Regions from separate parts of the Homo sapiens genome. Here region 2 is linked to region 1. The links come from fine-mapping of genetic effects on gene expression. A gene starts in region 1. The other region holds a variant in brackets. All regions are shown on one strand. Distances are between the middles of the regions.

Region 1 (4,383 bases):
CTCGGGAGGCTGACATAGGAGAATCGCTTGAACCCAGGAGGCAGAGATTGCAGTGAGCCGAGATCGTGCCACTGCACTCTAGCTTGGCTACAGAGTGAGACTCTGTCTCAAAAAAAAAAAAAAAAAAAAAAGGGCCAGGCGCAGTGGCTCACGCCTGTAATCCCAGCACTTTGGGAGGCCGAGATGGGCAGATCACAAGGTCAGGAGATCGAGACCATCCTGGCTAACACAGTGAAACCCCATCTCTACTAAAAATACAAAAAAAAAAAAAATAGCCGGGCATGGTGGCGAGCGCCTGTAGTCCCAGCTATGCAGGAGGCTGAGGCAGGAGAATGGCATGAACCTGGAAGGCTGAGCTAGATTGCACCACTGCACTACAGCCTGGGAAACAGAACGAGTCTCAAAAAAAAAAAAAAAAAAAAAAAAGGGACTAGGACTCAGGCCTGAAGACATGATAATGCCAAATGGCCACATCTGTTTCATAGACATTCATCTGTGCCACGCAACAACATACCCCAGGCTTTACAAACAAGACCCCATCAAAGTCTTGTATAAGCCAGGCAAACACTGAATGAGCACTTCCTATTCCAGCCCTATTCCTATTCTAAGTGCTGTTGATACTCGTTTAGTACTCATGACAACTTCAACAGGTAAATATTTCTATGACTCTCATTGTACAAACAAGGAAGTCGAGGTGAAGAGAAGTGCCCAAGTTCACATAATCAGCCCAAGGGTGCCTTAACAAGCAATAACTGGTTTTGAACCCAGGCAGTCTGTGCTCTTAACCTCAAACCTGTGCTGCTTCTTAGCTACTATTAGCTTCACTTTGAAACAAGGAAACTGAGGCTCAAAGTGGTCGAGTCCAAAGGTCTCCAATTAATAGGTGGGGGAGTTAATATTTAAATGCAGATCTGGCAGCCCATGACCCTAACCATTACACTATACCATGACTCTATAGGGCCTCAGTTGGGGAAGCATGAACAAAATTACTTTCCTGGGACGTGGCGGCTCACGTTTTTAATCCTAGCACTTTGAGAGGCTGAAGTGGGTGGCCTGTTTGAGCGCAGGAGTTCGAGACCAGCCTGGGCAACATAGCGAGACCCTGTCTCTACAAAAAATAAAAAAAATTAGCCAGATTTGGTGGTGCGTGTCTGTAGTCCCAGCTTCTCAGGAGGCTGAGGCGGGAGGATCACTAGAGCCCGAGAGTTCGAGGCTGCACTGAGCTATGATCACACCACCTTACTCCAGCCCGGGCGCAGAGAGAGACCCTGTCTGTATCCCACCCCTCACACACACAAAGATGGGAGCTTGAGACTCATGTGGACAGGGTGTGGGCTGGGCCTGGAGTACTGAGAACTGATGGAAATGAGGTTAAGAGTCTGCGTTAAGGGGTGGAGGAAGGAGCATGTAGCCTCTAGGCTAGGGGTCTTGGTGTGGAAATGAACCAGGCTTGGGGGAATACCTGTGTGAATGCCCCACTTGCAGAAGAGGCTACTTTCCGAGAAACCGCTGGCCCCTATGATCTGCCCGATCACGTGCACCTCAGCCATGGCCCTGGGAGGGGAAAAATATAATCACAACCCTGTGAGGTAAGTGTATTATCTCCATTTGACGGGGGGGAAACTGAGGCCCAGCAAGTAAAGGGTAGTACTAGGATTCCAAGCTAGCTTCGTCACACCCCTGAGGCTGAGGTCTTGACCACAGATCCTAATTGCCAACCCATGAAAGCCTGGAAAAAATGGGGGGACCCTTGTCTGGGGAACCAGCATTTAACTCTGGGAAGTCCAAAATAACCTTTTCGGGTTCAGGTCGGCGGAAAGCCCCGCCCGAAGGGGCTATGGCTCCGCCCACGAGCGCAAAAGACCCGCCTTCCGCGTCACGCCAGCCACCCCGCTTCCCTCCCCCAGCAAGCTCCATAAGGCGCATGCGTTATGAGTTCAGGTCCGACTTAACCCCGCCTCTAAGCGCAGCGCATGCGTCATTCCTACCTTAGCGCACTTAACGGTTAGGAGAGGAGAAAGCGGCAACCGGGGTTGTAGTTCATGGGCTTGACTGCTTCTTTTCTCCGCGGGCGCCGACCAGGCCTGGCTCGCGCCTCTCCCAGGACCCGCCTGGCTGCGAGATATGTAAGCCGCGATACTTCCGCGACCGCGCTCGTCTTGGTTTCCGTGGTTGTTGCTGGGGCAACAGCAGGCTCCTCCCCTAGCTTTGTACTCGCTCTGCGCGCTACTAATTGGTGCTAGCCGTCTGCGGGGGGCGGGGTGAAGCTGTGATGGACATTTTCCTCCTCCGCTCCATTTTGGGAAAATAGCGTCTCTCCAGCTACGGCAAAGGGTTCCGCCATTTTGGGCGTGGCTAGGAAGCTGCCATGTTGAGTGTGGCTGAGGAAGTTTGAGTGCAGTTTCTCCCAGATACCTTCTTTACCAAAAAAGCAAATCCCTAACTGCTCCGTGCTGCGCCTACCCCACCGAAGAGCTCTCTGTGGTCCGGGATCACAAATCAGAGATTGAACCAGGACCAAGGGGGAATTCCTTCCAGGACCTCGTGTACATCCCCGGCCTTGTAACTGGAAAACAAAGCAAAAAAATCACTCCTCATTCAGAGAGTGGAGAAGTTGGGGAGTGGGTTCTGCTTCCGTTTTAGAGTTCCCCTAGGTTTCTCAAGGACAAGGAAGGAAGGAAGTTGGATAAGTCCAACTTCCTTCTCGGAGCTACTACCAAGTTCACTGTTACTGCTTGATTCTGAGCAAGGAGCGGTTGGGGTAGCGAAGAGAAATGAGGAACTAAGATTCCCTTATTTGCAGAAAATCCTCTTTCCTATTGATTGATTTATCAATCAAGAAATGGAGATGTTGTCCCTGGATGCCATCCTAGATGCCATCATTTCCCACATCAAGCCAGTCATCAGGTCCCATCAAGGCTCCTTAAAAGGGTCTCACTCTGTCACCCAGGCTGGAGTACGGTGGCTCGATCACAGCTCATTGCAGCCTCTTAACTCCTGGGTTCAAGGGATCCTCCTACCTCAGCCTCCCATGTAGCTGGTATCACAGACATGCACCACCACGGCTGGCTAATTCTTTTTTTTTTTTTTAAGAGATGGAGTCCTGCTATGTTGCTATGTTGCCCAGTCTTGTCTTGACCTCCTGGGCTCTAGCTATCCTCCCAGTTCTCCCTCCCAAACTGCCGGGATTACAGGCGTGAGCCACCCAGCCAGGCCAATAGATACAAAGTATTTACAAGCTACCATTGGCTAGGCGCGGTGGCTCATAACTGTAATCCCAGCCCTTTGGAAGGCTGAGGCGGGAAGAGCTCTTGAGGCCAGAAGTTCGAATATAGGGAGACCCCATTAATAATGCATATATCAACTAGTGAAGTATTCCATTGAATTGTTTAATATAAATGTTATCCTATTGAAATGTTGTACCCTCGTTATAATTTTGGTTTTTTACTTTTTGAGATGGCGTCTCCCCCTGTCATCCAGGCTGGAGTGCAGTGGTGCGATCCCAGCTCACTGCAATCTCTGCCTCCCGGGTTCAAGAGATTCTCCTGCCTCAGCCTCCCGAGTAGCTGGGACTACAGGCGTGCACCACCACACCCAGCTAATTTTTGTATTTTTAGTAGAGACGGGTTTTCACCATATTGGCCAGACCGGTCTCAAACTCCTGACCTCAGGTGGTCCACCCGCCTCAGCCTCCCAAAGTGCTGGGATTACAGGCGTTAGCCACCGTGACCGGCCGGGTTTTTTTTTTTTTTTTTTTTTTTGACAGAGTCTCCCTCTGTCGCCCAGGCTGGAGTGCAGTGGCATGATCTCTGCTCACCACAACCTCCGCCTCCCAGGTTCAAGCAATTCTTCTGTCTCAGCCTCCTTAGTAGCTGGGATTGCAGGCACCCACCACTATATCTAGCTAATGTTTGTGCTTTTAGTAGAGATGGAGTTCCACCATGTTGGTCAGGCTGGTCTCGAACTCCTGGCCTCATGTGATCCTTCTGCCTCAGCCTCCCAAAGTGCTGGGATTACAGGCATGAGCCACCTCGCCTGGGCCCAGCTACTTTTTGTATTTTCTTTTTTATTTTATTTATTTACTTTTTTTTTTTTTTTTTTTTGAGACAGAATCTTGCTCTGTTGCCCAGGCTGGAGTGAGCCTCTGCACCTGGCAGAGGTTTCACTTTTAAATGATCTTTCTGTCCTTTAAGCTGGAGCTGGGGAAAATGTATTTATTTATTTATTTATTTCTGGATGCTGTGTGGGTGAGGTAGACAGCTCTAACCTTTCAGCTCTTGGGGCCCCTGGTCCCCTAGTGGTGGCACCAGCCTTGCATTCTCTTTTCTCAAGCCCCCATTTTGTCCATCAGGAAATCTTACTGCCTCTACTTTTGAAATACAC
Region 2 (4,383 bases), 55 kb after region 1:
AGCTCAAGCAGTCCACCTGCCTCACCCTTCCAAAGTGCTGGGATTACAGGCACGAGCCACTGAGCCTGACAAGTTTGTACTTTTAGCACGTTCCCCTGCCCCTGCCCAGTCCTTCTCACATGGGTGGACCTAGTACCACATTCTGAGAAAGCCTGATTCCAAGGTCCTGTATCAGTCCCTTGGACCTTCTTTGACCCTCTACAAGACCTTTCTTTCCCTCCTTAACCAGAGCAACTCCTGTTTCTATCTGTTACATATGCAGCACAGCCACATCTTGTGTGGATTTGTATTATGTCCATTCAAAAGCATGTGTCAGAAAATACCAGTAAACCTGTATTAAAGTTGGATGTTGAAGTAGTGCTAACCACCCTCAACTCTAACTAAAATATCAACAAGTGGGCTGGGCGTGGTGGCTCACACCTGTAATTGCAGCACTTTGGGAGGCTGAGGTGGGTGGATCACCTGAGGTCGGGAGTTTGAGACCAGCCTGACCAACATGGAGAAACCCCGTCTCTCCTGAAAATGCAAAAATTAGCTGGATGTGGTGGCACATGCCTGTAATCCCAGCTACTCAGGAGGCTGAGGCAGGAGAATCGCTTGAACCCAGGAGGCAGAGGTTGCAGTGAGCCAAGATTGCGCCATTGCATTCTGGGCAACAAGAGCAAAACTCCGTCTCAAAAAAAAAAAAAGAAAGAAAATTAGGTAGATCTAGTGGTGCACACCTGGAATCCCAGCTATCTGGGAGGCTGAGGCATAAGAATTGCTTGAACCTGGAAGGTGGAGGTTGCAGTGAGCTCAGATTGCGCCACTGCACTCCAGCCTGGGTGGCCAAGCCAGACTCTGTCTCAAAAAAAAAAAAAAAAAAAAAAAAAGGTAACTGCTGTGTGTAATGTGATCTCCATTAAATTTGTATCTAAAGAGCGGGTTCTGCGGTAAAGAAAGGATTTGGAAAGCACTGTACTAGAGAGCTCCCTCTGAATAATGTTCCCGGTCTGAGTGCTTGCAGCATTGATCCACAGCGCTGCCCCTAAAGTGTTGGTGTGAAGGTTGTCCCACTCTTCAGGCGGGGCAAAGAGCTTGTCTGAGGGCAATCACAAACCCCCTTCTGTCTTCTAACTTCGGAGGAAGGGCCCCCTTAACCTGGAGCGGTTCCCTTTGATGGGGAGGTGGGTGTTCACCAGAGGTTTTGTTTGAAGAAAAGGTTTTACTGCCATACATGGGTTAGAGTACTTCTGTAGTCCAGAAGTTGTAAATTAGTGGTCTATGCTGTTATTTGGTTCATAATGATGATTTTTTTTTTTTTTCGAGACAGGGTCTTGCTTTGTAGCCCAGATTGGAGTGCAGTGGCACGATCTCAGCTGCCTGCAGCCTTGAACTTCTGGGCTGAAGCAATCCTCTGCCTCAGCCTCCCAAGTAGCTGGAACCACAGGCACACATCACCATGCCTGGCTAATGTTTTGATTTTTTTTTTTTTTTGTAGAAGCGAGGCCTCACCATGTTGCTCAGGCTGGTCTCCAACTCCTGGGCTCAAGCGATCCTCCAACGTCAGCCTCTCAAAGTGCTGGGATTACAGGCATGAACCACCATGCCTGGCCATAGTAATGATTTATGGTTAGAATATTTCTTAAAGGTAATTGAATTAGTTGAAAGCACTTAAATACCAGACAATATCTCACTAAGAGAAAGAAAGAAAAAGGCTAGATTTCTGCTTTCTTTTGAAAAATCAGATTGGCCTTGCTGGGCAGAGTCAGTCAGTCTGAACATCAGTCTTCCTCTTAAAACAAGCCTGAGCTTTCCTGTCTGCCTGCCAGCATGCTGCAGGTCACCCACAGGGCTGAACTGTCCCCCTGTACTGCCCACTCGGCTAACCATTGCCTCCTCCCCTCCTAGGTGTGCTGATGTATCGGGACTACCCCCTGGAACTATTCATGGCCCAGTGCTATGGCAACATCAGTGACTTGGGCAAGGGGCGCCAGATGCCTGTCCACTACGGCTGCAAGGAACGCCACTTCGTCACTATCTCCTCTCCACTGGCCACGCAGAT[C/T]CCTCAGGGTGAGGATGCATGCCCTGTACCTTGCACATGTGCAGACCAATGTCACACCCCTGTCCAGGCCTCAGCTCTTTTGCCTGCCTTCTGGGTGGAATTCTGGGTTGGTGACACCACTAGAGCCCTGGTCTGTGCTCCAGACTTCTTCTTCTTATTTTTTTCTTTTTTGAGACGGAGTCTTGCACTGTTGCCCAGGCTAGAGTGCAGTGGTGCTATCGCAGCTCACTGCAGCCTCCTTCTCCCAGCTTCAAGCAATTCTCCTGCCTCAGCCTCCCGATTAGCTGAGACTACAGGTGTGCACCACCACGCCCAGCTAATTTTTGTATTTTTAATAGAGACAGGGTTTCACCGTGTTGGCCAGGCTGGTCTCAAACTCCCGGCCTCAGGTGATCCACCCGCCTCAGCCTCTCAAAGTGCTGGGATTACAGGCGTTTAAGCCATTGTGCCCAGCCCACTTTTTTTTTTTTTTTTTTTTTTTTTTTTTTTTTGGTCTGAGACGGGGTTTCACTCTCGTCAGCCAGGTTGGAGTGCAATGGTGCAATCTCGGCTCACTGTAACCTCCACCTCCCAGGCTCAAGTGATTCTCCTGCCTTAGCCTCCTGAGTAGCTGGGATTATGGGCATATGCCATTGTGCTTGGCTAAATTTTTGTATTTTTTGTAGAGATAAGGTTTCACCATTTTGGCCAGGCTGGTCTTGAACCTGAGTTCAAGTGATCTGCCCACCTTGGCCTCTCAAAGTGCTGGGATTACAGATGTGAGCCACTGCACCTGGCCTGTGTTCCAGACTTTGAATGCACCTCTTGTCTGGGACCCTTCAGAAGAGGGCTCTGTTGCTGTCCCCACCCCATTCAGGGGCCTGAAGCCTGTGTGACCACACTCTGGATTTCCCAACCACATGCCTACTGCATTTGTCTGCTCACAAACATAGCCAACGTGTGCACCAGGTTCCACTGTGCCAATGCTTCACGTTCATCATCTAATAAGGACCCTCATTGTGGCCATGGGGACAGAGGTTATTATTTGCTCTTGTTCCTGTTTTCAAGAGCAGGATGCCCGTGTTTTGTGTGTGTGTGAGAGACAGCAAGTGAATGGGAAAAAAAAAAGTGCAGGAGCCTGGCCAACATGGCAAAGCCCTGTCCCTACTAAACATACAAAAATTAGCTTGGCATGGTGGTGCACACCTGTAATCCTAGCTACTCAGGAGGCTGAAGCAGGAGGATTGCTTGAACCTGGGAGGCAGAGTTTGCAGTGAGCTGAGATCGTGCCATTGCACTCTAGCCAAAGTGAGATCCTGTCTCAAAAAAAAAAAAAAGGAAATTGAAGTCAAAGAGGGAAGTCACTCGCTAACGGTCATGTGGCACAGAGGGAGAGGAGCAGGGACTCAAGTCATTGACTGTGTACCTCCAGAGCCTGGGTTCTTGGCCCTGACCTTTGTCTGCCTCAGTCCTCAGAGTCAAGTAAGCTTCCCCAAAGCTTACCGTAGGTGCCCTGAAGTCCCTTCCCTTATAAGAGCTTTTTTGGGAAGCAAACCCACTGGGTGCCAGGCCTGCACCCTCATAGTGTGGAGAACAAGGAATCGGAGCCCCTTCCTGTCCTCCGGGGCCTGTAGCCTGATCTAGGGTTGGTCTGGGCCCTGGCTTCTTTGCCCTAGGGCAGCTGAGATGCATGAGTTTGTGTCTCTCCAGGCCTCAGCACTGTGCCCAGCACAGCAGGAGGCTCCACACCCCTTAGCTCATAGTGTTCTTTTGTTGAGGAACAAGAAGCAGTTTGAGCCTCTTAGGTGGGAGGTGGGCAGGGAAGCTTTCTCAGAGGAGGGGGCATTTAGGGGGCATTTGAGCTAAAGGTAATAGGGTTTCCACAAGGCTGGGGCGTGGCCCTAACCTTCCCTCTGGGTCCCTGCTAAGTCACTTCAAATACACGAAGTTCCTGCCATGTGCCGGTGCCACTCCAAGTGCAGGGAACAAAAGCAACGCAAACCTCAGCCCTCCTGGTGCTGCCATTGTGGTGGGGGAGACGGACAGTAACAGAGATGGAGAGGGAACTCCTGGAGTATATGAGGGTGGGGGTCCTGTAGGGAGCAGCCAAGCCAGCCGGGTGTGGTGCACTGTAGGGGTGGCTGGGGTCCGTCACTGGAGTGACACTGAAGTATGGACCAGAGGATGTGAGGGGGGAGCTGTGTGGTGTCTTGAGGCAGGTGTGAGCCTGGCGTGTTTGAGGAGCTGGGAGGAGCCCAGAGGGGCAGGTGTGGAGTGAGCAGGTGTGGAGTGAGCGGGTGTAGGGTGAGCAGGTGTGGGGTGGTTGGAGGTAAAGTCCAGGAGGTGGTGGGTGGGGGTGC

What was found. PIP is the estimated chance that this variant, and not a neighbour inherited with it, causes the effect.
Region 2: its variant is the best candidate, but not a certain one, in a credible set for the expression of B9D2 in whole blood (TOPMed, PIP 0.75).

What each region holds. Positions count from the first base shown.
Region 1 is chr19:41,361,970-41,366,352 of GRCh38, forward strand. It overlaps B9D2 (B9 domain containing 2), which reads right to left and starts at 2,180. Exons shown (of 4, transcript NM_030578.4): 1 at 1,989-2,180; 2 at 1,463-1,554. The coding sequence starts at 1,550. It also overlaps a transcript of TMEM91 not described here. RefSeq lists an enhancer at 2,036-2,155.
Region 2 is chr19:41,417,245-41,421,627 of GRCh38, forward strand. It overlaps BCKDHA (branched chain keto acid dehydrogenase E1 subunit alpha), which reads left to right. Exons shown (of 9, transcript NM_000709.4): 5 at 1,891-2,052. Among named protein-coding and RNA genes, the nearest start is that of B3GNT8, 7.9 kb to the right of the region's middle. The variant C/T (reference allele first, on the strand shown) is at 2,045.